Homo sapiens: one gene and its partners. The protein of the gene in region 1 interacts with the protein of each later gene in a pairwise test. Each region holds a gene or a part of one and is shown on either strand. Other genes may lie near its edges. The genes, in order: AP1B1, CRYBB1, TBC1D22B and POM121.

What was found.
Region 2: the proteins of AP1B1 (region 1) and CRYBB1 interact in binary tests that used the Homo sapiens proteins (3 or more experiments, as listed by UniProt).
Region 3: the proteins of AP1B1 (region 1) and TBC1D22B interact in binary tests that used the Homo sapiens proteins (3 or more experiments, as listed by UniProt).
Region 4: the proteins of AP1B1 (region 1) and POM121 interact in binary tests that used the Homo sapiens proteins (3 or more experiments, as listed by UniProt).

What each region holds. Positions count from the first base shown.
Region 1 is NC_000022.11:29,336,571-29,343,570, reverse strand, and holds part of AP1B1 (AP-1 complex subunit beta-1), read left to right. Parts: intron 1-1,187; coding exon 1,188-1,286; intron 1,287-1,810; coding exon 1,811-2,070; intron 2,071-2,713; coding exon 2,714-2,915; intron 2,916-3,796; coding exon 3,797-3,817; intron 3,818-4,437; coding exon 4,438-4,581; intron 4,582-7,000. UniProt on the Homo sapiens protein: Subunit of clathrin-associated adaptor protein complex 1 that plays a role in protein sorting in the late-Golgi/trans-Golgi network (TGN) and/or endosomes.
Region 2 is NC_000022.11:26,614,688-26,622,170, reverse strand, and holds the start of CRYBB1 (beta-crystallin B1), read left to right. Parts: upstream 1-4,143; 5' UTR 4,144-4,194; intron 4,195-5,832; 5' UTR 5,833-5,851; coding exon 5,852-6,031; intron 6,032-7,483. UniProt on the Homo sapiens protein: Crystallins are the dominant structural components of the vertebrate eye lens.
Region 3 is NC_000006.12:37,274,713-37,282,113, forward strand, and holds part of TBC1D22B (TBC1 domain family member 22B), read left to right. Parts: intron 1-4,591; coding exon 4,592-4,899; intron 4,900-7,401. UniProt on the Homo sapiens protein: May act as a GTPase-activating protein for Rab family protein(s).
Region 4 is NC_000007.14:72,941,796-72,948,901, reverse strand, and holds the end of POM121 (nuclear envelope pore membrane protein POM 121), read right to left. Parts: intron 7,066-7,106; coding exon 5,380-7,065; intron 3,317-5,379; coding exon 3,194-3,316; intron 2,766-3,193; coding exon 2,668-2,765; 3' UTR 603-2,667; downstream 1-602. UniProt on the Homo sapiens protein: Essential component of the nuclear pore complex (NPC). The repeat-containing domain may be involved in anchoring components of the pore complex to the pore membrane. When overexpressed in cells induces the formation of cytoplasmic annulate lamellae (AL).

The DNA of each region.
Region 1 (7,000 bases):
CTTCCCATTGGCTGCCCAGGCAGGGCTAGAGTCTGGAAGCCAGATGCTGGGCTGCCTCCTGCCTTGGAAACAGCCAGCCTACTGCTCATCTGCTGCTGGCCCCCATGTAACCAAATTGCAGACTCTGGTTCACCCCAGAATTGGAGGACCACGTGCCCTCCATTCTGCCTGCCTCTGTCAGCCTTCCCTGCACAAGTGCCCTCCTGCTGGGCAGGTGCCAGAGATGCCGTCAGCACGGCTGCTGCTGGGCTTCCTGCACTGCCACTCCTGCCCTCCTGCTGCAGACCTGTCCCTGGCACAGCCTATGGGCTCCCACTGCCCCTGACTCCGGGAGCATCAGGCTGCCCCCTTGTCCTAGGACTAGCAAAAATGAGACCGTGACTAAGGAAGGATTATGTGCAGAGACTTGTTCTCGCATAGATGTTTCTTCAGTCAGCAAGTATTTCTTAAGTGCCTGCTATACACCAGGCACTAGATTGGGCAGTAATTAGTGACACGACAGTAAGCAAGACAGACATCACTCCAGCCCACAGGGGGCTCACTGTACAGGATAGCCAGCAACTGGTGGCGCTGTGACGGGGTGGAAGAGGCTGCAGAAGCATGGGGGGTCTGGAGGTGGGGTTGGCATGAGATCTGAAGGGTGAGGAGGTGTTGGCCAGGATGAGGGCAGCTTTGGGTATGTCCAGGCATGTGGCAGGGGCCGGTGGAGGGCCACCAGGAATAGTTCCAACCCTCTGGTAGAAGCACAGGTCCTTGACGGCAGGCTCTGTGGGCCCTGCTGCCCCAGTCCCCTGGGCCTCCATGGGACTGTCGCCACTTGTTGACAGATGGTCCTGATAAGAAGCACTCCAGCCACACATGTGAGCTTCTCATAGTTCTGTGAATTCTAGAGCTCCAACAGGTTTCTAAAACCCTAGGGCTGGGCAGCGGCCCCTGGCCTACTTGGGTTTGCCAAATAGTCCAGTATTCAGCTCCTTCCTGAGTGAGTGATGCCGAGGTCTGGCTGCTCAGCGGCACCAACACTTGTGGCAGCCCTTTGCCTGTGTGCCGTGACAGCCCCAAACCTAGAATAGCTATGCTTGGCTTCCAGGGACTTTGAACACCCTATTCCTCTTCAAGCCTTTTTGTTCTCCCTCTATCCCCATGTGAGGCCCACACTTCCTCCTCGTCACCGCTGTTCCCTGCAGGTCCAGCTGCAGCTGCTGACAGCCATTGTGAAACTCTTTCTAAAGAAGCCAACAGAGACCCAGGAGCTGGTGCAGCAGGTCCTCAGTTTGGCCACTCAGGTGGGTGCCCCAACCTCCCCGCTGTGCCCAGCATAGCCCTCACTCAAGCAGGGGAACTTTTGTCCCAGGAACTAGACCTGGAAGCCAGGCCCGCTCCTAAGACAGGTATCTTGTGGGTGGGACTGGCTTCCAGCCCCAGAGTTACCCAAGCTCCCTGCCTTCAGGGTGCTTAGAACACAACACAAAGTGCAGTGAGGTCAAGTAGTGAAGTTGAGACAAACTAGACAGAGGAGGAGGGCCCATGGAAACCTGAGGGTGTGTGTTGGGGGCAGGAAGGGCAGGCCACAGAGGGCGGTTGGGAGTAGAGACAGGCATGGCCAGGCTGGAGTAGAGTACCATGGGGAATGAGCCCGGGGCCAGGGCATGGCCCTGTAGGTGGTATAGGGGCAGGCTCATGGGAGCACTCAGGACTGCTGTCCCCATTGGCCACCCCTGTGCCGCACCTGGCTCATGGCTGCAGGAAGGTCTCCTCCCTTCTCACCTGGCTACTCTGAGTTTCATGGGCTTCTCCTCACCCCCACAAGGACTCAGATAACCCAGACCTGCGGGACCGTGGCTACATCTACTGGCGCCTGCTGTCCACGGACCCGGTGGCAGCCAAGGAGGTGGTGTTGGCTGAGAAGCCACTCATCTCTGAAGAGACGGACCTCATCGAGCCCACACTGTTAGACGAGCTTATCTGCTACATCGGCACGCTGGCTTCCGTCTACCATAAGCCTCCCAGTGCCTTTGTGGAGGGGGGCCGGGGCGTCGTGCACAAGAGCCTGCCACCTCGCACGGCCTCGTGAGTGAGACTGGCCAGTCGGCCTGCGCCTTCACACTCTGCTTCCCCAGTTTAGCAGCACAGGCACTCAGGCCTGGCGTGTTGTCCCCCAGCAAGACCTGAGTCTGAGGAAAACTGACAACCTTTTATCAGCTATTTATTGTACACAAGGTATTTGCTAGATGACCTCATTCCAGCCTAACGACAGTGCTGAGAGCAAATGTCCCCATTCTTCAGGTGGGAACAAGAGACAAGGAGAGCTTGAGGGACTGGTCCAGGATCTCACAGCTAGCAGAGCTGGGACTCAGACCAGTTCTGTCTCATTCCAGATCCCTGTCTGCGCCTCCTCCTCTGTTGTTCCCAGGTGGTTGGTGTGGCCTGGTGGCACCGTCCTAGGGCACTGGCATCCAGTTTTCTTCTTAGCATGGGCTGAGGGCTAGAAGCAGGCGGCCCTCTCCCTTCACTCATCCTCACGGAGGACCTGAAAGATGGACCTGCTGTGGGAATGGGAATGGGGAAGAAGTGGGGCCGTGTGGACAGCCCTGTCGGGGACAGTGAGGAGACTCAGTGCCTGTCCTGGGGGACAGCTCTGCCTGGAGGCTGGGGTCTCTTTGACCTTCCTGAGACATCCTGATGCCTCCACCCTACTTCTGTGTCCCGGCAGGAGTGAGAGCGCAGAGAGCCCTGAGACAGCCCCTACTGGAGCACCTCCTGGGGAGCAGCCAGATGTCATCCCCGCCCAGGGCGACCTGCTGGGTGACCTCCTCAACCTGGACCTCGGCCCCCCAGTGAGCGGCCCACCCCTGGCCACCTCCTCGGTGCAGATGGGAGCTGTGGACCTTCTTGGCGGTGGCCTTGACAGCCTGGTATGTTGTGGGCCCCCTCTGGATGATGTTGATAATGATCCTCAGAGGAGCAGTCACTGAATGCCCCTCCATGCCAGGCACCAGCTGAGTGCCTCAGGTACATTATATAGAGTCCTTACCATTTACCCTTGGAGGTGATTGTGTAGCTCCCTACTTATGATGAGAAAACCAAGGTTTAGAGAGGCCAGGCAGCCTTCCCTCCGAGGTCGCACAGCCCCTGAGAGGCAGACAGGATTCCACTCCCTTGTTGAACCTTCGAGTCCCAGGAGACCCTGGGCAGGGAGGCGCATCCTAGCCCTTGCCCTGATCCTGGCATCACAGTCACCTTTGCCCTGTAAGGCTAGGGTGTTCCTGGCTTTGAGGAATCAGACTTGTGTCCACTTACCCTTATGCAGCGCCAGCTGGGAATAGCAGCCCATCCAGGCCTATTTGAGAGGGCATGGGAGGCCGGGGAGAGAGGGGAGTGGGAAGACAGTAGGGAGGGGAGTGGTGAGACTGACTTGGGTATCTCCCTGGGGCTTCCTCAGGCAACTGGCAGGACCATGTGTGGGGGCGCCTAAACCTCTTCATTTGGCTGTGCTCGGCTCAGGTCCGCACGGTGGCAGCACGGGGGCAGGACACTGGTGATCAGTGCTGCTAGGGTGAGGCAGGAAGGGCTGTGGTGCAGGACAGGTGTTGGGGTAAAGGTGTGGGGTAGTGCCTTTCATAGAGACAGGGTCTGGGCCTCTCGCCAGACCTCACACCACACTCCTCTCGGATGGAGCTACCGTTGACTAATCTCCCTCTTTCCCTTCTCTCTCTTGTTTCTCTGTCTTCCTTCCTGGCTTTTTCTCTCTGCATGTGGCTGCCTGTTCTCTTCACCTGCCTGCTTCTGCTTGGAGATGGGGGATGAGCCTGAAGGGGTATGGTTCAACCCTTGCGTCACCAAGCCTTCGTCCTTGCTCCTCCCGAAAGCGCTGGCCCAGCATCCCAAGGGGCGGGGGCGGGTGATGTCACAGCAGCCTCCACCTGCTGAGCCCCTGCCTTGGTCCAGCATCCTGGCAGCCTCTGTCTTGACCACCTGGCATCCGGCTGCCACTGGGCCCCATAGCCATGGATTCTTGCCCAGTCCTCACCACCCCATGACACGTCGCCTTGTCATCGCGGGGATTGCCAGCCCTCAGTCCCACAACCCTTCTCTGATGTCCTGGAGGGAGAGCACCCATCTGCGTAGCATGTCTCCACCCAGCCGTGTGTCTTGGGACCTCCTTTTATCCATAGGCTGAGCGTCAATTTGGGAGTGTCCCCAGCCCTTTCCCAGAGGTTACTCCTAAGGCTCAAGGCTTGCAGGGCACGGGAGGGCTCAGCCTCTCTTCTCCACCCACCTCTCTCTGTCTTGTTTCTGTAATTTAGAGTTGATATGGAGGCTGTCCTGCCCCCTGCCCCCAGTGTCTTCTAAAGAGCCAGGTGGCTCTACTCATTCCCAGACCCTGATGTCTTTGCCTCTTGACGCCCACCTCTGACTCTTTCCCTCCCTTTCCAGATTGGGGGCACCAACTTCGTGGCACCTCCAACAGCAGCAGTACCAGCCAATCTTGGAGCACCCATCGGCAGTGGCCTGAGTGACCTCTTTGACCTGACCAGTGGCGTGGGCACCCTGTCAGGATCATATGTGGCCCCCAAAGCAGTAAGTCACTTGTCTTCTGTCTTGGCGGGAGCAGAGAGAAGTTATGGAGACTGGCATGTGGGCTCCTTTAAATGGCCTCGGCTGTGGAATTGGCTCAGGCCAGCAGTGATGAGGGAAGCTGGGGGCCACAGGGGCACCGAGGAAGAGGAGCTAAGTCAAGCTTGGTGGGTACCTAGGAAGGCTTTCCAGAGGAGTCGCAGGACCTCAGTAGCTGAACAAAAGCGGATAGGGGCTCCAGACCAAGGGAACAGTCTGTGGTAAGGCCTGGAGGGAAGGGAGACCACGGCCTTTGTGAGGGAATCAGCAGAGGCCTGTCAGGTGGGAGCAGTAGTTCTCAGTGCCATCAGACTCAGCACCCCTTAGTCATCATAGACATTTTACATTGTCACCATTCCTCTCCTTAAATGCAATTGGTGGGCTGTGTAACCTACCTACACATAGCATTCCAAAAATACTCAGATGCTTTCACTGCATGGAGGAGACATAAAAGGGAGAGAATACAAGTGTATGTATCAATGTTATAAACGTCTGGGCACGCCTGCCCGCTCACCCCAGAAGACATGAAGTTGCCAGGTGTTTGCTGCAGGGCAAAGTCACTGTGACTGTGGCAACCACAGTCTGGGTGTTTGTAGCCTGGACCCCGTGAATGGTTTGGCCAGTGGTGCCATTTGTTTCTGAAGTGGTCACTGACTCCCAGTAAGGTTTGGAGTAAGATAAAGAACAGGCTTCCCTCGATTTTCCTGAGAATTGTGTTCCTGGAAGTCTCAGGATATGTTGAAACCATGCAGAAAATACTGGAAGGATGCAGGACAGTTGCTTGTTGTGGGGTGGTTGTCCCCATGGTAGGATGTCCAGCATCCCTGACTCCAGCCCACTACATGTTATGCCACCTGAAGATGCCCACAGATGCCCACTATGCCACCTAGGGCACACCCCCAAGACTCCTGGCTAGACTAGGGATCAGTGAAGGAGGAAGCTGGCAAGGCTGGCGGGCCAGGCTGAGCGTTTCTTCTTGATCCTGGCACAGCCGGAGCCATTGGAAAGTTTTAAGCAAAGAGATGAACCAGTCTGATTTGCACTTGAGAAAGATGGCTGCGTCTGCAGGGAAGGGGTGGGGCAGAAGCACCGGCCCCGGGGGATTCCGTGGCAGGGAGGAGGAGTGCTGGGGCAGCTGGACCACGGGGGCTCTTGTGGGTGGAAACAGCGGCCAGACTTGAGAGCTCCCTGGGAGGGAGGAGCCGGGGCTGAGGGAAGGAGAGTTGAGTTTGGGATGTGAGGACATGCGGGCCTGGCACTGAGGAGAGCTCAGTGTGGGCCATGTTGTCAGTGTCAAGGAAGCTGCCAGAGGGGACCAACCAGGCCTGATCCCCTCATCACACTCAGATCAGAAGTTGTGTTTGCCAGAGCTCCCCTCTCTCTTCTGAGGTCCCCACCCCAAAGCAGGATACAGTTGGCGGTCAGGGGCAGTGACAGCTCTGTCATGACTAGGGAGCCATGAGCCAGCACCTCCCCACCCCCTGAGCTGGCTTTCCCCACCATATGCCAGCTGCACCTGCAGTGGTGGTGACTGGAGCCCCTGGCAGGGTCTGGGCACTGAGAGGCCCACAGCAGACAGCAACTCGGACACTAGTAGCCGCACACTTCCTTGTAGGGACAGCACAGCATTCCACAGCCACCGCCAGCACGTCCTCCTCCCAGCAGCCCTTTGTGGCTCTTCCTCCTATTTCGTGGTTGAGAAATCCTAGTGCTTTTGCCTAAGGTCACATAGCTGGTGACAGAGTCTGGAAGTGAAAGCAAGTGACACTAAAGCCTCTGCTCCAGACCCCTATATGATGGTCCCCACAGAGCGTGAGAACCACCTGTGCACCTGCCTTCATGCGTGGGGTGTCAGGGCCAGCAGGGCCACGGGAACGTAGAATCGCGGCATAACGTACAGCATGTGCAGTTGACTTACTACCTGGATTAGCTGCACCAAGGCATGAGGCCAACTCGTACTCACCAGAAGCCCAATATCACAGGCATACAAAGCAGGACTAAGGGACAGAGAACAGCAAAGACTCCTGTAACCCTGTGGGTGCCAGCCCTTGCCAGGCACTGCAGAGCTGCCAGGAAAAATAAGCCTGGAGCTGGCCTTTGGCAAGCTGGCACTAGGCTTGTGTGTTCATCTTTTTTTTTTTTTTTTTTTGAGACAGAGTTTTGCTCTTGTCACACAGGCTGGAGTGCAATGGTGCGATCTCAGCTCACTGCAACCTGTGTCTCCGGGGTTCAAGCGATTCTTCTGCCTCAGCCTCCCGAAGTAGCTGGGATTACAGGCACCTGCCACCATGCCTAGCTAATTATTTGTATTTTTAGTAAAGACAGGATTTCACTATGTTGGCCAGGCTAGTCTTGAACTCGTGACCTCAGATGATCCACCTGC
Region 2 (7,483 bases), 2.7 Mb from region 1:
AATTTGTTTTTAAATGAGGGAAGCAGGTGCTGGTCTTGATGGTTGGGGCTCATCCTTGGTTAGGATGAGGATGGCATTCAGGATGACACAGTGACATCCCTAGGACTGGGGACCTGGGTTCCTCGCCTCCCAGAATGCTCACTCAGAACTCTGATCCCACCCCTCCTCCAAACCTGGGACTTACCGAGATAGGCCCAGGGAACATGTCAGATCTGAGACCAGCCGAGGTCGGGCTCTTATAGGCAGGGAGGGAAGAGGGGCCCCTGGGAGACAAAGCCCCGACTCAGCAACTGGGCCACAGAAACAAAAGCCAGCCCTGGCTGAAGAGCCAATGGCAAGCCGTCAGCAGCTCTGGCTTTAGCAGGGAGGGAAAGGACCAGATCACCACCCCCAGGGATCAGCCACGAAGAAGGAGAGAGGTGGAATATTGGCCCTCATCAGCCCCACAAGGTTCCTGACTAGAGCAGGAGAATGAGCACTAGATGAGGAGTCCAGAAGCATCCTTCCTAGCTATGTGAGCTCCAGCGAGTCATTTCCCCTCAATTTCTGCCTATAAAATGGGGCAGAAACAAACCATATCACAGAGTTGTTGTGAGGTTACATAACATGCCTGGTACAGAGTAAACATTCAGGAAATGCCTATTCCTTTCCTTCTCTCTTTCCCCTTTCTCTTCCAGTTGAAGCAATCCAGATAGGCTTGCCGTTAGAGGAGGCATTTGAACTAGACTCTGAAGGATGAGGAAGATATGTACAGAGTGAGATGGAAGGAGAGGCATTCTAAGAAAAAGTTCAGAGGTGGGAACTTGGGGCACATGTACAAGAAAGAGCTGGTAGCCCAATTGGCCTGGAGCTCAGGGGACCTGAAGGGAAGTGAGGCAGGAGAAGAGGGCTAGGCCAGGGCCTGCTGGGTCCACAAAGCCTGAAGATGAATCCGGATGGCACTGTGGGCAGCATAGAGGAGCTGTTAGTTGCAAACATGCTTTGCAAACTGTGGCACACTTGCCAAATATCCAGGACTTGTACAATTTGCTGTGTGCCTCTTGTCCCGAAACCCTGCCCTCTGAATTGGCGTATGAGGGACCTAAGAGGTCCCTCATACATACATACTTGTGTGTAAAATGGGTGTAACAAGCATAGGAAAACAGCATGACTGGAAACCAGATCATCTGAGATGAAATCCAGCCCTGCTTCTTTCTTACCATCCGTGTGACCTGGAGGACACCTGAGTCCTGCTCATGACCTGTAAAGTGGCCACACCAGTTTCCTTTTAAGAGGGTGAAATGCAGCTCTATCAAACGCATGACTTTAGGCTGGGCGCAATGGCTCACGCCTGTAATCTCAGCACTTTGGGAGGCCGAGGTGGGTGGATCACCTGAGGTCAGGAGTTCAAGACCAGGCTGGCCAACATGGTGAAACCCCGTCTCTACTAAAAACACAAAAATTAGCCGGGAGTAGCGCGGGCGCCTGTAATCCCAGCTACTAGGGAGGCTGAGGCAGGAGAATTGCTTGAACCTGGAGGCAGGGGTTTCAGTGAGCCAAGATCATGCCATTTCTCTTGACCCTGGGTGACAGAGCAAGACCCCGTCTCAAAAAAAAAAAAAAAAAAAAAAAAAAGGAATGCATGACTTTGATGAAGGGTTGGCATGAAAATGAAAGGTTAACAATGCACCCTCTACAGCCAGACTGCCTGGGTTTGCATCCCACTGGTGCTGGCTGGGTAACTTTTAAGCATGTTACTTACGCACTCTGAGCCTCAGTTTACTTGTGTGTAAAATGGGTGTAACAAGGTAAGTTGGGATTAGTCTAAGAAACAGGGGGATTGTGAGGATAAATGTGAATAGCACATGAACAGCAGCTGGAATTGCTCCTGCAACATAAAAAATATTGTGGTATTTCCATCATCTTCATCATCACCATTGCTAATAAGAAAGATGATTATTATTAATTGTTGATCAAAAAGCAGGGGTGCATAGTTTTTAAGAGCCTGGGTTCATGAGTAAAGAAGATGTGAGTTCCAATTTTATCTTACATTTCCATTTTTATGAGAAAGTGGCTGAGAGAGAGGAAGGAAAGGGAGTTGCTTCAGTTTCCTTATCCGTAATTGGGGTTAATCCCAGAGACTTCATCCTTATACTGAGGAGTACAGGACAATGCAAAAAAAAAAAAAGAAAAGAAAAAAAGAAAAGAAAATAAATTGGCTCCATAAGACAGGGCAAAAAAGAAAAAGATATAATGAAGGATACAATAATAATAATAAATGCTCAGAGTGGAGCCACCAACATGGTGGGCCATCCCCCTTCTCTGCCCCCACCCTCTGGCAGACAGCCCATTCCTGGGGCTTTAGGGGGGGCACGGAACTGCCCCAGATGACCTGGCTTTGAAGCCTAGACTGGTGGGTGGGCCCTCACCACAGGCGTCTTGGCCCCAGTTCCAGTGGCTACCCCATCTTGCAGTTCCTGCCCACACCCCACCCACCAAGTCTTGGCCCAGGATGAAAGGCCAAGGAGAGGCTAGGAAGCGAGGGGGTGCTGGGTGGTGGAGGGACAGAGGCAAAGCTGGCTCCAGGCCAGGGAGAGTTCAAGACAGAGCTGGGCTCCACGGGGAGCCTAGAACCCCGAAAAAGAAGAGACAGGAGCCTATCCAGATGCCCCCGCAATATACCCTGCCTGGGACTGGGGAGCCGACTGCAGGTGACCTAGCTGAGCAGCTCCCCAGGCTCCTTCTGACCCCAGCTGTACTGTGAGTTCCCGCCATGTGACTATGTTGAAGTCATTTGTTCCACCTGGGCCTCGGTTTCTCCATTTGTGAAATGGGAGGATTGGGCCCTGTGATTTCTGGCGTCTGTTCCTCCGTCCTGAGGCTTGATCACCCCAACTTGACCTCTGTCTCTCCGTCTCTCGCTCCTTCACTGTCCATGTCCCCTGTGCCTCTCTGTGTCTCTGTCTCCACCTCTCTCTTTGTCTGTTACTTCTATCTGCCTCCTTACTTCTCTCTCCTTGCCTTGGTTTCCCTATCTCCTCCGTACCCTACCTTCTGTTCCGATCCATTGGAACCACCATTGAGTCACCAGTTATTGACTGAGAACCCATGATGTGCCAAGCTCTACCTAGCCAGGCCCAGCTAGGTGCTGGGGCCAGTGGTGAACAAGATGTGGTGGGCATCTGGGGCTTGCCAGGGCAGGAGGCTCTGGGACAGGCAGTCATATTTCTGGCCACCAGCACTGTCCTCCAGGTCAGATAACGTGGCCTGGGTAGAGGCGGGGAACTGGGGTGGCGAGAGGGATCACTGTCGATAGGTCAGGAAAGGATGGGGCCCAATGTGGGGAAAAGAAAAAGACCCAGGTCTCCGATATCCAACCCAGCTGAGCACAGTGCGACTCTCCCATTCCCACCCCAACCTACAAAGAGGAAGTCAGGCCAGGGGGCCTCAGGCCAAGGTCAAGGCTGGACAGCAGGAGAAGAAAGCACACAGGCCCAGAGCTGGCTGGCCTGGGCTGGCTCTGACCTCTCTGTGCCTTCACTTTCCTCTTCTGTGAAATGGGCATAATGAAAGTACCAAATAAGGCAGATTGTCCCGGGGACTGACCGAGATAACACGGGTTCGGCACACAGTAAGCACTCCGTAAAAAAGGCTGTCCATATCAAACCCACATCTGCCTTTACAAAACGCTTCTGTGCTCATTGTCACCTTCTTTTCTATATGGCATCCAACAGGGACACGTGCCCACCTTATAATTGCAGACACAGAGGCCCCCCTAGGGGTAGAGACCTACCAAAAGCCACACAGCGCGCAGTGGCTGAGTCAGGATTCAAACTCTGGTCTCCTGCCTCCCAGGGTCTCCCCTTTTCCCTGCCCCATGTTGGCAGCCAGCAGGGACCCTTTTGGGGGCCCATCCCTGGCTGGGGTTGTTGAGAAAGGAGTCAGGGTAGGGTTGGAAGGTGAAGCTGCTGTGGCCAGGGTTTCTGCTGTGTGTGCTGGTCTCACAAAGGAAAGTGCTGCTGTCTGCAGTGATCCAGGCGAGGTCAGGGCCCCAGTCCCCCACTCCCTGCCCAGGCCTGCTGAGCCAGCTTCCCCTTTGTGCCACAGACTATAGGGCCTGATGTCTGCCAGACTATAAAATGGGGGGTCGGACTCTAGTCACCCATAGCACCTGCCCGCCTGCCTGTCCTCCAGCAGGAAGTAGCAAGTCCCCAGGTAAGAGGGAACCCACAGCCCAGCTGAGAGCTGAAGGGGAGGGGAAGAGAAAAGGGAGACAGAGAGAGGGAGGCAGAGATAGCAGTGCCATGAGAGTCAGAGAGCAGGGCCATGGAGATAAAGACGGAAGTGGAGAGAGGAAGAAAGGGAGGGAGAGGGAGAGGGGAGAGAGTGAGAAAAGACAGAAATAGAGAGAGAAGTAAATATAATTAAAAAGGACAGATAGAGAGATAAGCAAAGATACAATGAGGGAGAGATAGTGGGGGAGAGAGGAACAGAGAGGGAGAGAAACAGACAGGCAGATAGGCAGAAAGAGGGAGAGAAGTAAGAAACAGATAGAGAGGCAAAGACAGGGAAGAGAGGAGGAACAGAGGGAGAGGGTGAAGCAGGGAGAGAGAGAGAATGAGAATATCTCCAGGAAGGCATGAGTCCAGCTGCCAGCCCTGGGGGAGTGTTTAAAGCCACAGATGTGGTCCAGATGTCTGGCCTCACCCCTGGTGAACAGGGGGCACCCCAGAATATGCACAGCCTTCCTGGAGGAGGCTGGGGGAGGGATGTGCTTATCCCAACTAGCTCCGCCTTACAGAATGTGTTCGGGAATCAGCTTGACCAGAGGGTCTTAATCTGTGCTAGCAGGGGGTCCTCAAATCCCTTAACATTGTCTCCAAAGTTAAAGAGAGCATTATTTTTGTCCGGGGACAAAGTTGAGGTATTCATCAAACATTCAAAGGAGTCCACGACCCCAAAGCAACAAGGAACCACTGGAATTGACCAAAGCCCTCTCCACCCAAAGCCTACCCAGCCCCAGTCCTCATTTTCAGAACCCTCCACATGCAGTAAATACATCCTCTTGGGTCCTCCCATAAGCCTCAGTCCCCGGCCTGTATTTGCACCCATACACCAACCCCTCAGAGGAAGCAGACGGGGAAAGGAGCTGGGAGCATGCATTCATTCATTCTCTGAACAAATGTTAATTGGGCATCTCCTATGTGCCAGGTGCAGAGCAAGTGTTAGGGATGGACGGTGAATAAATCAGATTAAGCAAATGGCAGAATACTTTAAAAGCCCAGTTGCTGGCTCCATTTCCTTGAGTTGAAATCAGAGCCCTACCACTTAGTAGCTGTTTGGGCCTGAGCTGGGCCCCTTCCTTCTCCAGCCCCCTGCTGCTCAGAGGGGATCATGATAGCAGCTACTCCATCGGGTGAGGTTCATGGTCAGATGGGTTAATTAATGTATGTCACAGTGCCTGGCACACCTTAAGTACTCCCAAATGGGACTTCTTGTTATTAGTCTAGGGAGGCAAATTGGAGTTGCACAAGCAAATCAGTGTGATAAGCAGTGTGGAAAATTGCAGGGGGCTAAGGAAGGACCTAGCGGGGTAATGGAGGGTGGAACAGCTAGTGGAGGGAACCGCATGGTCAAAAGCCTGGAGGAAGGATATATGTGGGATGAGTGGCCCCCAGACGGGAAGGTCTTGGCTGGGAAGTAGGGATGAAAGAAAAACTTCCAGGCTTAACCGTTTCAGAAGGAGATAGAGAGGAAACGAGCTCCAAGGAGGCTGAAAGCACAGGATGTGGGGCTATGAGGGCAGGAGGCAGTTTGGGGGTGTCATCCCTGAAGGCCAGAGTTTCTTTACAGACTTTTGCAGGCGGGAACCATGTCTCAGGCTGCAAAGGCCTCGGCCTCGGCCACAGTGGCGGTGAACCCAGGGCCTGACACCAAGGGGAAGGGGGCCCCACCTGCAGGAACATCCCCTAGTCCCGGCACTACCCTGGCCCCAACAACCGTGCCTATTACCAGCGCCAAGGCGGCGGAACTGCCTCCTGGGAACTACAGGGTAAGGACCTGGGGGTGCAGTGGCTGGGTGCCATGCCTTCTTTCCTTCCTTCCCTCCTCCTCCTTCTTCTCCTCCTCCTCTTCCTCTTTCACCTCTTACTCCTCCGCACCTCTTTCTCCTCCTTTTTCTTGGCTTATTTTCTCTCCTTTCTATTTACTCTCCCTTTTCTTCTTCTCCACCTCCCCAGACTCTTATCCTCTGTCCCTATTCTCTTTTTCCCTCACCTTGGCCTCCTCCTCCCTCCTCCTTCTGGGACACAAGTGTGGCCCAGCCAATCTGGGAGCCCATAAAATAGCCAGGGGTTCTGACACACTTGGAGAAAGTGGGGCCGGGCGCAGTGGCTCATGCCTGTAATCCCAGCACTTTGGGAGGCCGAGGCAGGTGGATCACCTGAGGTCAGGAGTTCGAGACCAGCCTGGCCAACATGGTGAAACCCTGTCTCTACTAAAAATACAAAAATTAGCCAGGCGTAGTGGTGGGCGCCTGTAATCCCAGCTACTTGGGAGGCTGAGGCAGGAGAATCACTTGAACCCAGGAGGCGGAGGTTGCAGTGAGCTGAGATCATGCCACTGCACTCCAGCCTGGGCAACAGAGGGAGACTCCATCAAAAAAAAAAAGAAAAGAATAGAAAGAAAAAGGGGACCTATAGTTGAGTTGTGCAATAACAACAACCAAACCATACCGCTTCACAGCTGAAGGGACACCTGGCAATCAGGCTACACCTGCACACGCACATGCTTAGAGTTTATCGAAAGCAAGAAAAAAAAAGAAGAAAAGGAAGTGGGCTGGCTTAGCAGCAGGGAACCAGCTGTCCTTGGAGGCTCACTGGGGCAGCAGGATGGCCTCAGACCCTCAAAATTGCTCGAGGTGGTCTGGGCTGAAAGGCATCCTGTGGAGCAAGGTGTCCAGTCCCCTGGGATTTGGTTTGGTGTGGTTTCAACCTCAGGTCACAGAAGTAGGCCATTTTGCAACCCCTAGTTCATGACACGCTCTCATGTGGTCAGTGCGTGGCAGGTTTTTATTTATGTACCTATTTAATCATTAGTTTTATTTAATTTCTAATAATGCAATATGCACCTACAAACCCACCACCCATATAAAAGCCAGGACTTGGTTAAAAACTTTCTACCTAACTCTAAGGTGTCTCCCTTGAGTCCATCATTTTCCTCCCCAACTCCAGGAAATACTGTCCTATCCTCAACCTGTGTCTGTAATCTGCTTGCTTGCTTTTGTATACAATTTTATGCATTATTCCTTTAAAAATGTATACACACATACACATGTATATTTATTTACTTGTTTTATTTATTCATTTATTTTGAGACCGAATTATGAGACGGGTTTTGCCATATTATCCAGGCTGGTCTCGAACTCCTAGCCTCCGCCTCCCCAAGTGCTGGAATTATAGGTGTGAGCCACCGCAACTGGCCGATTTACTTGTTTTTAATTTAT
Region 3 (7,401 bases), on another chromosome or scaffold:
CAGAGGCCAGTTTGGTTGTGACTTTGATAGAGTTGTGTTTAAATAATCTTGGTTAGGGTGGGGCATGGTGGCTCACGCCTGTAATCCCAACGCTTTGAGAGGCCAAGGTGGGCAGATCACCTGAGGTTAGGAGTTCAAGACCATCTTGGCCAACATTGGTGAAACCCTGTCTCTACTAAAAATACAAAAATTAGCTGGGCGTAGTGGCATGCGCCTGTAATCCCAGCTACTCAAGATGCTGAGGCAAGAGAATCGCTTGAACCCGGAGGCGGAGATTGCAGTGAGCCAAGATTGCACCACTGCACTTCAGCCTGGAAGACAGAGCGAGAATCCATCTTAATAATAATAATAATAAATAATCTTGGTTAGACTTCAAGCCACACTGTGGCATTCTTTTACATTGAGTTAAGTGTAAACTACCTGGGACTGTGTTTAAATGGAGTATATAAACCGAAGGCATCCCCAGCTGGAGTTACCTGGATTAACTTTTTGCTGCAACTACTGGGGTCAACAGAAAGGGGTGACATTTCTCTTACAAGGAGCCCATGCCTAGATGTGGCTTCTTTCCTGTCTACTCAGAATAGGCTATGTGTGTCAGACCTAAGTCTTTTCCTACAAGTTGAGATTTTTTTTTTTCCTACAGGGTGTGAGAGTTGGGCTTTTGGCTGTGTATAGTTGGGGAGAATTATAGCTGTGGTGGTATGTGGCTTGGTTTACTTGGCGACTTCTCTTCCTAGGCTGCAGATCCTTCTAGGCCCTGACCTTCTTCTTTTTAGCTGCTTTTTTCAAGGTAAAGTAAGTAGTTAGTAGCACATGCTGGCCCAGGAGTCAGGTAGACCTGGATTTGAGCCCAGACCTCACTGCCTGCTCATGATCTCAGTAGGCTTCAGTTCCCTCATCTGTAAATGGGACTAACAAAAATACCCACCTCATAGGATTATTAATGGGCATTAGATAAGAAAATGGGTATATATTAAAATTTAGCATAGGGTCTGGTGAGTATTCAATATTTATGAATATTATGAATATGTATGAATATGGCTAGTGAGTAGCCAATATTTATATGTATTTATTTGTGAATTTATGTATCTCCTCTGGAGAGAGCATAACTAGTAAACATGGAAAAGCTTCAAAGCCTTAAATTTACCCATCATTGTTTATTGCTCCTGGTCTGTGGATTCTCTGCCTTCTCTCAGTGGTAACCCAAAGTACCTTTCACTTCTTGCTTTGCTGTTTCATTCTTTTCTTTTTTTCTTTTTTTTTTTTTTTGGAGATGGAGTCTTGCTCTATCACCCAGGCTGGAGTGCAGTGGCACAATTATGGCTCACTGTAACCTCTGCCTTCCGGGTTCAAGTGATTCTCCTGCCTCAGCCTCCTGAGTAGCTGGGATTACAGGTGTGCACCACCACACCTGGCTAATTTTTGTATTTTTAGTAGAGATGAGGTTTCACTATGTTGGTCAGGCTGGTCTTGAACTCCTGACCTCAGGTGATCTGCCTGTCTCAGCCTCCCAAAGTTCTGGGATTACAGGCATGAGCTACCATGCCCAGCCTTCTCTTTCATTCTTGTGGGTGGTTCTCACCAACCTTGTTTTGTCCTCAGACTCTTCCCCTTTTCTAGGTGAAACCAACCCCTTCCTCCACGAAAGCCTCTTTCCTCAGGACAGAGCTGACTTTTAAATTGGTTGGTTGAATTTGGGGTTTTGTGGGCTAGGTATCCTTAAAATCATTTCTAGCAGCCTCAAAATGGTCTGCCTTGAATCTCATGTCTTTATGTCATGGGGAATGACAGCCTTTTCTCCCTTCTTTCTTCTTCATTGTGTTGGAAAGTGTCCTCCCAGTTTCTATTGGCAAGTCTTCATTTGAGTAAATTCCAATCTTAATCTACTTCAAATATATATTGAATCATTATCTGCTTCAAAAATATAATGAAAACTGGTCAGGCATGGTGGCTCATACTTGTAATCCCAGCACTTTGGGAGGCCGAGGAGGGCAGATCACCTGAGGTCAAGAATTTGAGACCAGCCTGATTAGCTGGGCATGGTGGTGCGTGCCTGTAGTCCCAGCTACTCAGGAGGCTGAGGCAAGAGAATCGCCTGAACCGAGGAGGTGGAGGTTGCAGTGAGCCTAGATCGCACCACTGCACTCCAGCCTGGGTGACAGAGCAAGGCTCCTTTTCAAAACAAACAAAAATATATATATATATAAAACGAAAACCTTCAAATGCATAAAAAGCGTATGAAGAAAAATACAACACACACCCTGGTACCCACCCCTCAGCTGGTTAACGGCCTTCATTTTTCTCAGAAGTCAGCACCTGTTAGAACCTGACAGGCAGCCTGGCCCGTCTCTCCCTGTAGTGTGTTCATCCGGTCCTGGTGTGCGTGTGTGTCACCCTGTGTTAGGCCACCAGCTTCAAGTCAGCTCTTTGACCTGAGTTAAAATTCAACTTCTTGATTTGATGATTGATTAAAGAATTCTCAGAACATCCAGTATTTATGCAATCTTAATGTACACGTGGCCTCTAAGGAGGAAAAACAGTAATAACCACATACTCCTGGGTGTTATATTAGATGACAGATCTTTCTTACACAGCTGCATGTTTGTTCTCGACAGCGAATCCCCTGAGGTGGTACTGCAGGTGGTAGATCAGGTCCCCTTTTACAAAGGAGAAGCAGCCATGGTGGATGAGTCCAGAACGTGCAGCCTCAGTTTTATTTTCTTTGATTTGGGTACTTGTCTCCTATAGTTCTTTTTTTTTTTTTTTTTGAGACGGAGTGTCACTCACACTGTCATCCAGGCTGGAGTCAGTGGTGTGATCTTGGCTCACTGCAACTTCCACCTCCCAGGTTTAAGCAATTCTCCTCCCTCAGCCTCCCGAGTAGCTGGGATTATAGGCATGCGCCACCATGCCTGGCTAATTTTTGTATTTTTTTAGTAGAGATGGGGTTTCACCATGTTGGCCAGGCTGATCTCAAACTCCTGACCTCAAGTGATCCATCTGCCTCCACCTCCCAAAGTGCTGGGATTACGGGCGTGAGCCACTGTGCCTGGCCACTCAAATAGTCTTGTTTTAAGAACAAATATTATCATTTCTATAAATAGAAAACAACATTTGTTATAAATAAGAAGAACTTCTGGGCGTGGTGGCTCATGCCTGTAATCCCAGCAATTTGGGAGGCTCAGGTGAGAGGATCACTTGAGGCCAGGAGTTTGAGACTAGCGAGAGCAACATAATGAGACCCTTATCTCTCAAAAAAAAAAAAGCTAGACATGGTGGTGTGCGCCTATAGTCCCAGCTACTCAGGAAGCTGAGGTGGAAGGATTGCTTGAGCCTAGGAGTTCAAGACTGCAGTAAGCCAAGATTTCTCTACTGCACTCCATCACTCCACCCTGGGTGACAGAGCAAGGCCCTGACTCTTAAAAGAAAAGAACCATATAAATACTCAGTGAAAAACCAAACAATCTTATTAAATCCAGAGGCAGATCTTGTTGCTAGCAAATATATTGATTCTGAGGCTGCCGTCACTTTGGCACCTAGTTAGAAAATGGTCTTAAAGACAGAGTAGCACCAAACTTCAACTTTCTTCTCAAGGCCAGCAGAAGAACTTTTAACAGAATAAAAAATGGAACAACTTTTTTATTTTGGGACTTAATGTTTAATGCTACATATGTGGACTACCTAAAATTATCTTGTTTTCTGCCAGTAGTTTATGTGCTGCTCTAAGTGATAGCAGATCAACTGTCAAATCTCTGTGGATTAACATAGTAAAGGTTTATTTCCTGCTCATGCTACATGTCTAAAATGGGGGTGGGGTAAGGGCAGAGGGCAGGCTCCTCGACATAGTTACTGCTGCTCCACATAGCCACTCAGTTACCTAGGCTGAAGGAGGTTCTACCATCTTGCCAGTGCATCATGATAGAAGAAAAGCTATGGATCAGGCATGGTGGCTCACACCTGTAACCCCAACGATTTGGGAGGCCGAGGTGGGAGGATCACTTGAACCCAGGAGTTCAAGACCAGCCTGGGCAACATAGTGAAACCTTGTGTCTACAAAAAATAATAATAAAATTAGCCAGGCATCGTGGTGTACACCTGTAGTCCCAGCTACTCAAGAGGCTGTGGTGGGAGGATCACTTGAGCCCAGGAGGTCAAGGCTGCAGAGAGCCATGATCATACCACTGCACTCCAGCCTAGGTGACAGAAACTCTGTCTCAAAAAAAAAAAAGAGAGAGGTTATACAGAACTGACACCTATTCTCTACTTTGCCTGGAAGTAATCGCCTCATTTCTCCTCAGTCCATTGGCCGGTATTGGTCATATGGCCTCACCTAAGTGTATGGGGGCCAGGAAGTATACAAGAGCACATGGGATATTTGGTGACCATTGCTGTCTCTGCTACATCTGTCTCTGCGATCTCAGGCTGGTCTGGATGTATCTAGATGAAGAATGGATGTGGGCAATTTTTGTTTGAAGAAGCTAATGATTATGTATGTGGTAGTTTGTAATTTATTAATATTACAATAATAAGCAAATGTAGGTGGTCAGATGTGTCAGGCCATTCCTTGGTAATCGTGTCTCCTTTCTTGAAGTTTCATTAAAGAACGATCAAAAGTCAACACAGTTCCTCTGAAGAATAAGAAGGCCTCCAGTTTTCATGAGTTTGCACGGAATACCAGTGATGCTTGGGACATTGGCGATGATGAGGAAGAGGACTTTTCCTCACCTTCTTTCCAAACTCTGAACTCAAAAGTTGCTTTGGCAACTGCAGCCCAAGTTCTAGAAAACCACAGCAAGCTGAGAGTAAAACCAGAACGGTCCCAGTCAACGACATCGGACGTCCCTGCCAACTACAAGGTCATAAAGTCCAGCAGTGATGCCCAGCTGTCCAGAAACTCTAGTAAGTCCTTCCTGCTCCCTTCATAGCCTCAGCCTTCTCAGCAGCGTGCATTTTAAATAAAAGCGATTTTTCTTTGGGGCCTCACTCAGGTAGATATTCAACTGGGCGGTAAATAAACTCAAGCCTGAGATGTGACATCATTAAGCCTGAGTGGTCACAAGCTATACTTGCCCCTCCCACAGTGGTGGCTGCCCAGTCTGGTGACCTGGGCCTTCACTCTCTGACACCCAGGTGTTGTTTGCCATTCTCCTCTTCTCTTCTTCCTTTCCCTGTGGTGGAGTCCACAACTTCTCTGGTTTGATTGCTTCACATTGCTTTAGGCCTGGTCAGGTTTAGAAATAGTAACTGATGTATTTAAAGCTGTTAGTGGCTGAATTTCACAATTGTTTGGCACTGTGGTTTGACTTTCTCAGCCCTAGGGAACAGCCACTAGCATAAGGTTGTCTTTTCCTGTTCCTGAGGGAGGGAGCAAATGTGCCTAAAGGCCCCAGGTCCCAGCTTCCTGACCATCAGGCAGGTCCCATCAGGTTGGGTGGGGTAGAAGTAGAGGCCTCTCTGTTTCTTTTCGGGAAACTGGCCACAGTAATGGTTGATGTGTTGGTGGTTTTATTAGCTTTTGGGGACTCTCAGTGTATTCCTTTAAATATTCATGGTTATGTTTAATGTTGCCCTAATGGGTTTTATAAAGTATGTTGGGAGCTGGAGAGGGAAGCTTTGTCATCGCAGTGAGAGTTAAAGCAGTGAGCTGGTACAGGATGAAAAGGAAGTAGAAGAACATCAGAGCCCTGGAGTGTACCCTGGCTCATGTTCTGAGGGAACTTTTTCGTGGCTGTAAGGTCTTTGCAATCATTGCACAGTTATTTTCCATCACTGATTTGGGCTCTAGCATGAACCTTCAGTGCCATGCACAGATAGGCATTCAGTGTTACTGGACCAGGTGGCCACAGCTGCAGGCCGTGGAAGGTGTCTACACACTGTGATGGAGGGTCTCCAGAGGTTTCCAGTGTGAGGAAGGCCCCTACCGTGATCCATGATGAGCTGCCCTGTGCAGCCAGGACCTCCCCCGCCCAGCCCAGAGCATTCTCCCTGAGGAGGTTTTCTCCTGCCGGCATCTGTCTGTAAATAGGTAATATGAGATTTACCTCTGTCTCAGCTTTGCAGTGTGTGTCTGCATTTTCTAGTCCCCTTGTTACACTAGGCGTCCCAGCCAACTGCCTCATGGAAGTTGTTTTTGTAAACCTTCTAGTAGTGCTGGTTGGTTGATAGTCACTGCATCTGTCTGTAAATAGGTAATATGAAATTTACCTCTGTCTCAGCTTTGCAGTGTGTGTCTGCATTTTCTAGTCCCCTCGTTACACTAGGCATCCCAGCCAACTGCCTCGTGGAAGTTGTTTTTGTAAACCTTCTAGTAGTGCTGGTTGGTTGATAGTCACTGTTTAATTTTTGTTGTGACTACTACTTTTTAAGGCCCAGCCGTGTAAAGAATATGAAACAGTCATGTAAGCACAGCTAGAATTAAAAACTGAGTTTTGCTTGTGGTAATACAAGAGTTTTAGAGTCAGGCTTACCTAAGGTGGTTTTTCACTTCTCACTTGCAAGTTATTTAACCTCCCTGAGCTGCAGTTTCTTGTCTGTAAAATAGTTATACATTCCTACCATATGTTCTAAGGATCAAATGAGAGATCATATGTAAAAGTGACCTATATGCCTTATACATATGAAGCACTCAATATACGTGAGTCCTCTACTGCTTATTCCCCCTACCCACTATCTAGTGTAGAAATGTCAAGAACAAGACAGAGTTCAGTTTGAGTCTTTGTTTGTTATTTCAGTCATATCTTGGCAGAATTAAGAACTGGTTGATTTTGGTGGGAAATGTAGGAGCACAAAGGAACCGCAGCCACCAAAGGCAGGATTGCCTTAGGCCAGAGCTTCTCACCATTGTGCAGGGCACACTGGTGGGCCAAGAACCGGGTACAGGATGTGCGGGGATATTGATCCTTTTAGTCCTTGGAGCAGCTGGGGGTTCTGGGGCTTGTGGAGAGCAACCACCTCCATTTATTGCAGCCTTGTGCTTTGTGGTGTCATCTGCAGTGTCATCATTCCTTATGTGCTCTGTGGTGTGGAATGGGAAGGAAAACACTGCCTTAGACTAAACTAAACTCACTATTTGGCACCAAGAAAAGTTCCAAGTTAGGGTAGAAAGAAAACATTTGATTTTCCTTTAGAGTCACCAAAAAAGTTCTCAAAAGTTGCTGCAGCATCTGGAGTCTCTGTTAGCACCTTTAGAGTCACCAAAAAAGTTCTCAAAAGTTGCTGCAGCATCTGGCGTCTCTGTTACCACCTAAGGTGCCTTGGTGTGTTTGATATAAATGCAGCCCTTTCTCTGGGCAGTGAATGGGGTGTGGCTGGGTTCTGGCCCCTCGCTGCCCTTCAGCTGGGCACCTCAGACAGTGCACACAGGCAGCCACACCCTTGGGGAGGAAACACAATGCTGAACGG
Region 4 (7,106 bases), on another chromosome or scaffold:
GCGCCTTCAGGTACAGGGCGTGCGCCAGGGTCGTGGAGGGGGGGATGGGGTGAACTGCTCTCTTACCCAGCATTGGGGCTGTTTCTCTTGCAGGCTAGCTCCCGCCCTGCCTGCCCGGCCCCACCGAGGCCTGAGCACGTTCCCGGGTGCCGAGCACTGCCTCCGGGCTTCCCCCAAGACCACGCTTAGCGGTGGCTTCTTCGTTGCTGTAATTGAACGGGTCGAGATGCCGACGTGAGTGAGTGGGGGCATGCTTGGGAGGCGCAGGATGGTACTGGCACATCTAACATCTACATTTCTCTAGCTCAGCCTCACAGGCCAAAGCATCAGCACCAGAACGCACACCCAGCCCAGCCCCAAAGAGAAAGAAGAGAGCAAAAAGCTGCAGCCGGTGCTTGCACACCGCCTTGCACATAGCAGAGGCTCCGGGCTCACTCCTTCCTGGTGGGAAAGGAAGATGCCTGTCCTCTCCGTGGAAGACCCTGGGCCCTCACCGCAGGCAGCAGTTTGCGTTTTGAAAGGTTATTGGGTCCCTTCCTCGGGCTGTGTTCTTGCTGGTGAGCAAAAGTGTTGCCTGCAGAAATAAAATGCAGAACGTACTCTACGATAGATCACAGTTTTTTATTCTTAATGTCACAAGCAGGAGAAAAATCTCACATTCATACTAAAAATTCCAACTAGACTCAACAGGAATGAAGTCTCTATTTGTAATGGAAAGTCCCAGCCTCCCGCTGCCGTCCAGTGCGTGTACTGTACACATCCACACTCATTCTCACTCAGGGTTCCCGGACCGGCTGTCCTGCCTGCGGAACTGAGGTAAACTAGCTCAGGTACTGACACTAGGAGGGTCTACCTTACATAAGGTACAGGTAGAAGCTTGATTGCTAGGCCCAGGCCCACCCAGACCCTCCAATCCTAACAGGTATTTAGGCTTGAGGTTCACTCCCTCCTCAGCTGCACACGCAGCCAGGTATTAACGAGGATCAGAGCTGTTCTGAGGGGTGGGAAGGAGCAGCCCCGCCACCACTCACTCACCCTCAGTCACATCGGGGAGGGGGCACCAGTTACATTTACATCACATTATTTATAAAATAAGAATTACATTTCATATAACATGGCCAGAAGGAGCTCTAGTCCCCCAGGAAAGCTGCCGGGGACAGCATTTGAGCCTCTTCTTTGCACAGGCATAACTTAACTATACAGCTAATTCCTAGTTAATAGCATTTATACTTAACCACCTCAATGAACCAAGCTTGAAGGAATTTAAAAGGCAATTTAGCTTAAATACAAAAATAAATTTTTGTTAAAAAACGTTTAAATATTTTTTTCTTTTAATTTAGACACACGCATTCATACTTCTCCCAAAGAGGTTGGGCGTGGCAGCAAGGCGCTTGGGCCTGGGGTATGTGGTTTCAGAAGGACGGAAGGAAAGGATGGGCTGCAGAGGGCCCTGTTTGGGAAAAATAGGATTTTAAAAATATGGTTCATTAATTTAGGTTTTCTAACATCTACTTTGGGTGATGTAGCCTCCAGTGAGGTCAGTTAAGTGGGACAGAAACGGCAGAGGGAAGAGGTCTTTGCTTCCCCTGGGCCCATTCTCCCTGGCTGCCAGCCCTTGAAGTCAGAACACCATGGGAAAATTCAGGAGTCGGCACTTGTAGCCGTCAAGTGGTGCTACTTTCCACATTCAATTAGCGAGGCCCCAGAAAACTTGAAACAGGAAGTCCGGCACTACCAACATGCCGCCACTCATACAACTCAACTCTTCCTCCAAACTCGATTCAAAGAGCAATACACAGAGCATCAGACAAAGGAACACAGGACAAGGCTTGAAACATACAATCCTGGAGAGGCAGACGAGGGCCCAATGGGGCCAAAGGGTAGCTGGGCGAGGAGGCAGCTGAAGCAGCGGTGGGCATCCTGCCTGCTCCAAGAGCTTCTCCCTTCACCCCTGGCTCTGCCAGGCTAACAGTCTTGAGCCACCAAGCTCTGAGGGGCCAAACTGGCAGAGGGTTGGAGATGAAACATTGATTCAGGCTTGGCAGGAAGAAAACGGCAGGAGCAGCACCCACTGGGGTCTCCAAGGCAAAGCTAGATTCAAGGGCATTTAAAAACGAAGGAATCCTGCAAGGAACTGGTGAGGGACACAGCAGCAAGAAATGGGGAAACAGAGTCCCCAGAAGGGACCAGAGGAAGAGAACCACTTCTCACAGCTAAGCCAAGCAAGATAAAGCTTTACGGATAGCCCATTTCCCAAATCCCATCAGGTGCACACCACCGATCCAGGCGGGCTGGACCCTGCCCCCTCCAGCGACGACGGTCTCGGGGAAAGGTGGAAGGGGCGCCTGCCTAAGGGTGTGCTAAGCGGGAGTCAGGGCAGCGGACACTATGTACAGGTGTTTCCTTAGTTCTCCAGCCTCCCCAGTAGAACTGTTCAAGTAGAGGTCCCGGGCTTTGGCCCTCCGCATCCTGCTTCCCCTTCCCTGAGGCTTGTGCTTCCTCCAGAAGGGAAAGGGCCCCAGGGCTGCCACTGCCCCCTGGCGGCTGAAGCCAGAGATCCGGGGTAGGTTTGCTTTACGCAACTGGAAGGGTCCAAGGCTCTTCCTAGCAGGTGCCAAGGTCCAGATTTAGGGAAGGGGTGGGGGGAACAGGGACAGGGGACAAAGGCTACTTTTTGCGGGTGTGCTGCCTTCGGGCCTGCAGTCGCTGTCGAGCCCCTGGGGTCTTGGATCCCGCACCAATGGAAAATGAAAGGGCCGCCGATCCTGGAAAGATTCAACAAGACCTCATCAGGGCAGCTGCTACCTGAGACTCTGACTCTGGGTGCCCAAATCTCTGGAAGGCCAGGCCAGTAATAAAACACAGGGTGCCTCAATAGGGCTTTCCCCGCTGCATCAGAAACACTGTACGGGAGAAGCCTCCTGAAATGCAAACTCCCAGAGAGTCTCAGAGCGAGGCCCAAGAATCCATTTTTACCTGGCTTCCCATGGGAGGCAAACTTCCACCCCGGACAGCTCCTCTCTGATCTCTGCCATCCAACTCCCATCCCTGGGTTGTGCTGGACTCCTAACCCGAAATGTCTTTCCTGTGCTGAACCTGATCTTCACCGGGCCTCAGAGGACCAGGAACCTGCCACCCCGCCCAACCCCTCCTCAGACAGATGAGCAGGGCCACAGGGTGGCTTGCTGCTTACCGAAAGGTGCAACACCAACAAAGCCTTGGGCGGGTGCTGAGGATGCCCCAAAGGAGAGGCTGCTGCCTGATGTGCCCACTCCAGGCGCAGGGGTGTTCAGACCAAAGGTGGGGGTGGCGGTGCCTGGAATGAAGAGAACAGAGAGCTGGCCAGTGAGCAGAGGGCAGAGGCAAGCGAGGAGCCGGGCAGGAGCCTGTGCTCCGCAGGGCACTTCCCACGGGACCCTCAGCCCCACTTCTGCTTCTGGGGCACTCCTCCATCAGCAGCTGAGCCAGACAACCGAGTCTTCATGCCTGGTGCCCCAGCTCAGCCTGCTTCTCCCACCCGCTAATGGCCACGCCAGGGCAGAGAAAAAGCCCCCCTGCCCCGCAGCCACCTCGTGGGCCTCCTGACCATCGCTGCAGAGGGGAGTACTCTGGGGCCCCCGCCTCCTAGCGTACCTGGGTTGGCTACCTCCTCTGTTCAGGCCTTTTCCCCCAGCCACCGTCCCCTCCCCTCTGAAGCCTGGTTTGTCCGTCCCGCGTCTTTTGTGATGCCCCGTGGTCCCCTCCCTTCCCCGGCCTTGCCCTGACTGGCTCTGGCTGCCTGCCCGAGGCCCTCTCTGGCAGCCCCTCTGCAGGGATGGCTGCTCTCAGGGCTTGGCCTCCGGCCCGGACAAGAGGAAGCTCCCTGTGCTCCCACGCTGCTTCCACACTGTTTCTCTTCCTTCCCTAAATACCGTAACTCAAGTTCAGATCACTTTAATCTGCCATGTCCTCATGTCACCTGTCAACTGCCAGGTCACTCCCTGATTCACAGAGGACCCTTGGCTCACTGGCTTCCTTCCCATCACCACTCACGGTGACTTCGCCCTGTGAGGCTGACTGATGGTCCTCTCAGCCCCTCAACCCTGCCACCCCCATGACCTCCTCTCCCCGACCCCTGCCACCACTCCTGCAGCCACACTGTCACCACAACTGCTCCGGCTCCCGAATCTCCTGTAGGCACCACCCCTCCTGCAGCTGACTTCACCCGCTCTCCACTCCTGCACCCCCTGAGCTGCATCGGGGCACTGACCCGCTGCCCCTCCTGCTGTGCTTGCTGGGGTCTCCATGGCCGGGTGGCACCAGCTGTCCGCTGACCTTAGGTCTACACCCACAGTGTCGCTGGGAAACACATGCCATGCTAACTGGCCTCACTTTAACTTCACAATCACAATTTTCCAGCCCACAAACTGCCTGGAAACTGATCACACTTTTTAATATGATGTTCCTTTCCCCCACTGTCCAAAATGACTATTTCAAAAGACCCCTTTTTTTATACACTTTATCCTGACCCTCTCTCTCCCAGATTTTCTCTACTTCACGAAGCAAACAGAAGCCATGGGATCTACATTCATCTTCCACATGGGAGGAACCATCACTGCATCCTTCTGCCTGATTCTGCAATGGTTTTCCTGAACACTTAAGACCCAAACACCCAACCCTGGCCACAAACAATCCTTGCCTCTTGGCCTCCTTCCACACCACTGCTTTAGCTCCTGCCCTCCTGCCATGCTTGTCTTTGTTCTGCTCTTCAACATACCAAACATGTTTCTGCCTCTGGGCCTTTGCATGCGCCATCCTGGGCCTGAAAGGCATGTCCACTTGTGCTGTGCCCACCCCCATATTCAGCTTACGGTTTGTTTTTTGAGACAGAGTCTTGCTCTGTCACCCAGGCCGGAGTACAGTGGCATGATCTTGGCTCACTGCAACCTCCAACTCCTGGGTTCAAACCATTCTTGTGCCTCAGCCTCCTGAGTAGCTGGGATTACAGGTGGGTACCACCACGCCCGGCTAATTTTTTGGTATTTTTAGTAGAGACAGGGTTTCGCCAAGTTGTCCAGGCTAGTCTTGAACTCCTGGCCTCAAGTGATGCACCCTCCTTGGCCTCCCAAAATATTGGGATTACAAGCGTGAGCCACTGCGCCCAACCTTCAGCTTACAATTGTTAACTACTCAGAAGGCCTTTGACCAGTTAAATCCACAATGGCTCCTCCAGTCATTACTACGTTAGCAAAACATGTATCGTTCCCTGGCATCTCACTGAGTTCTATATTCAGTGCCTGTCTCTTCACTGCCACAGCATAAGCTCCCCGAGACCACAGGCTTCGCAGGCACAGCTTTTCAGTGTCCGGCCCGGTAGCCCAAGTCCACGCCCCTCCTTACCTCCAAACACAGGTTTGCTCTCAGTTGTGCTGCTCACGTTGAAGGCAAACGGTGTGCTCTGGCCGGTGGTGCCCAGGGCGTTCTGACCTAAGCCCCCTGCGAAGGGGGTGGAGGTGGCTGTGCTCCCACTCTGTCCTGCTCCAAAGCTGAAAGCTCCGGTGGTGGTGCTGGAGCCTGGGGTGGCCACATTGATCCCAAAGCTCCCACTGCCAGCGGGGGCTGCCGAACCCCCAAACGTGAAGGGTGATGGTGTTGTGCTGCCAAACACCGAGCTGCTGCTCCCGCTGCTGGCGGTCTGGGTGGTGGCTCCAAAGCCGGAGCTGGTGGCTGCACCGAAGAAGACAGCAGTGGAGCCGCCAAAGGCGGGCTGTGAGCTGGCGGGAGCGCCGAAGGCCGAAGCCGTGGCTTTCAACCCAAACGCCGAGTGCGTGGCACCGCCAAAGATAGGATGGATGGGCGTAGGCACGTACGCAGGCACGACCTTGATCATGGACGGAGGTGCAGGTGTGGGTGCAGCAGCCGGGGCTGCAGAGTTTCCAAAAGTGAAAGAGCTGCCAAAGCTGGGGGCAAGGGCCGGCTTGGCGGCCCCCGGTGGCTGCCCCTCAGCGGCCCCAAATGCGGGCTGGGGGTTGGCTCCCGGATATGATGGGAGCGGGGACTTGGCGCTTGAGCCAAAGGGAATGTTGAACGTGGGGGTGCTCGTGTTACTGAACGTCAGAGTGGGCTGGCTGCTGGTGGCCGGGGCGGAGGTGGCGAGGGTGCTGCCAAAACCACTAAAGTCGGCAGCGCTGCTGCTGGTGGCCGTTGGCACGGCAGTGTGCAGGGACTGGCTGAAGGTGGTGACTGTGGTGGTTGTGGGCAAGGCAGGAGGTTTGCCAAACTGGAATATGGAGCCCATGGCCGGGGTGAAGCTGGCAGCAGAGGCCTGGGGCGCCCCGAAGAGGAAAGGCTGTGAGGCGGCAGTGGCGGTGCTGGTCGTGGTACTCACACTGCTGCTGCTCACACTGTTTATGCCAAAGCCAAACGCAGGCTTCGAAGCAGAGTCTGTGGATGGACTGGCAGAGGTGATGGGAGCCACAGCAGAGGTGGCGCTGGCCAGGCCAGTGAAGAGCGGGGCAGTTGTGGTGGGAGCAGTGGCGGGAGTAGTTGTCTGCTTGAAGAAGGGAGCAGGCAAGGGCACAGATGCAGGTGGCCCCATGCTGCTAAAGACAGGCTGGAAGGTCGGGGCTGTGGTGCTGGTGGTCGTGGGGAGGGAGGAGCTGGAGGGCGCTGTGGCTGTGACTGAAGGGCCAGGCGGTGTGGGGCCTTCCTTCTCACTCTTGGGTGGAGCCGTGAAAATGGGCTTGAACATGGGAGGTGCTGAAGATGCAGCAGGGGCGGCAGGGCTGGAAGGTGAGGTGTTCTGTGTTCCAAACAGGAAGCTTTGCTTGGGGGCGGGGGACGGGGCAGATGTGGCTTGGGGTTTGGTAGCCGTCTCTGCCTGAAGGGTTGGAGGTGCCTTGGTGTCAGTGGCTGGTACCATGGATGGAGCAGGGATCAGCCCCAGCAAAGTGGTCGGGGGTTTGGAGTCAAAGGAGGGGCTGGGGAGCAGCCCTGGCGGCCCTGACTGTGATAAACCCAGCGGGGGTAGGAGGCTGGGTGTCTTTGGAGGTGAGAGGGCCTCAGTGGTTGCTGCTCCAGCAGATTCTGGAAGAAGAATAGAAAATGTGAAATTGGAATAAACACTT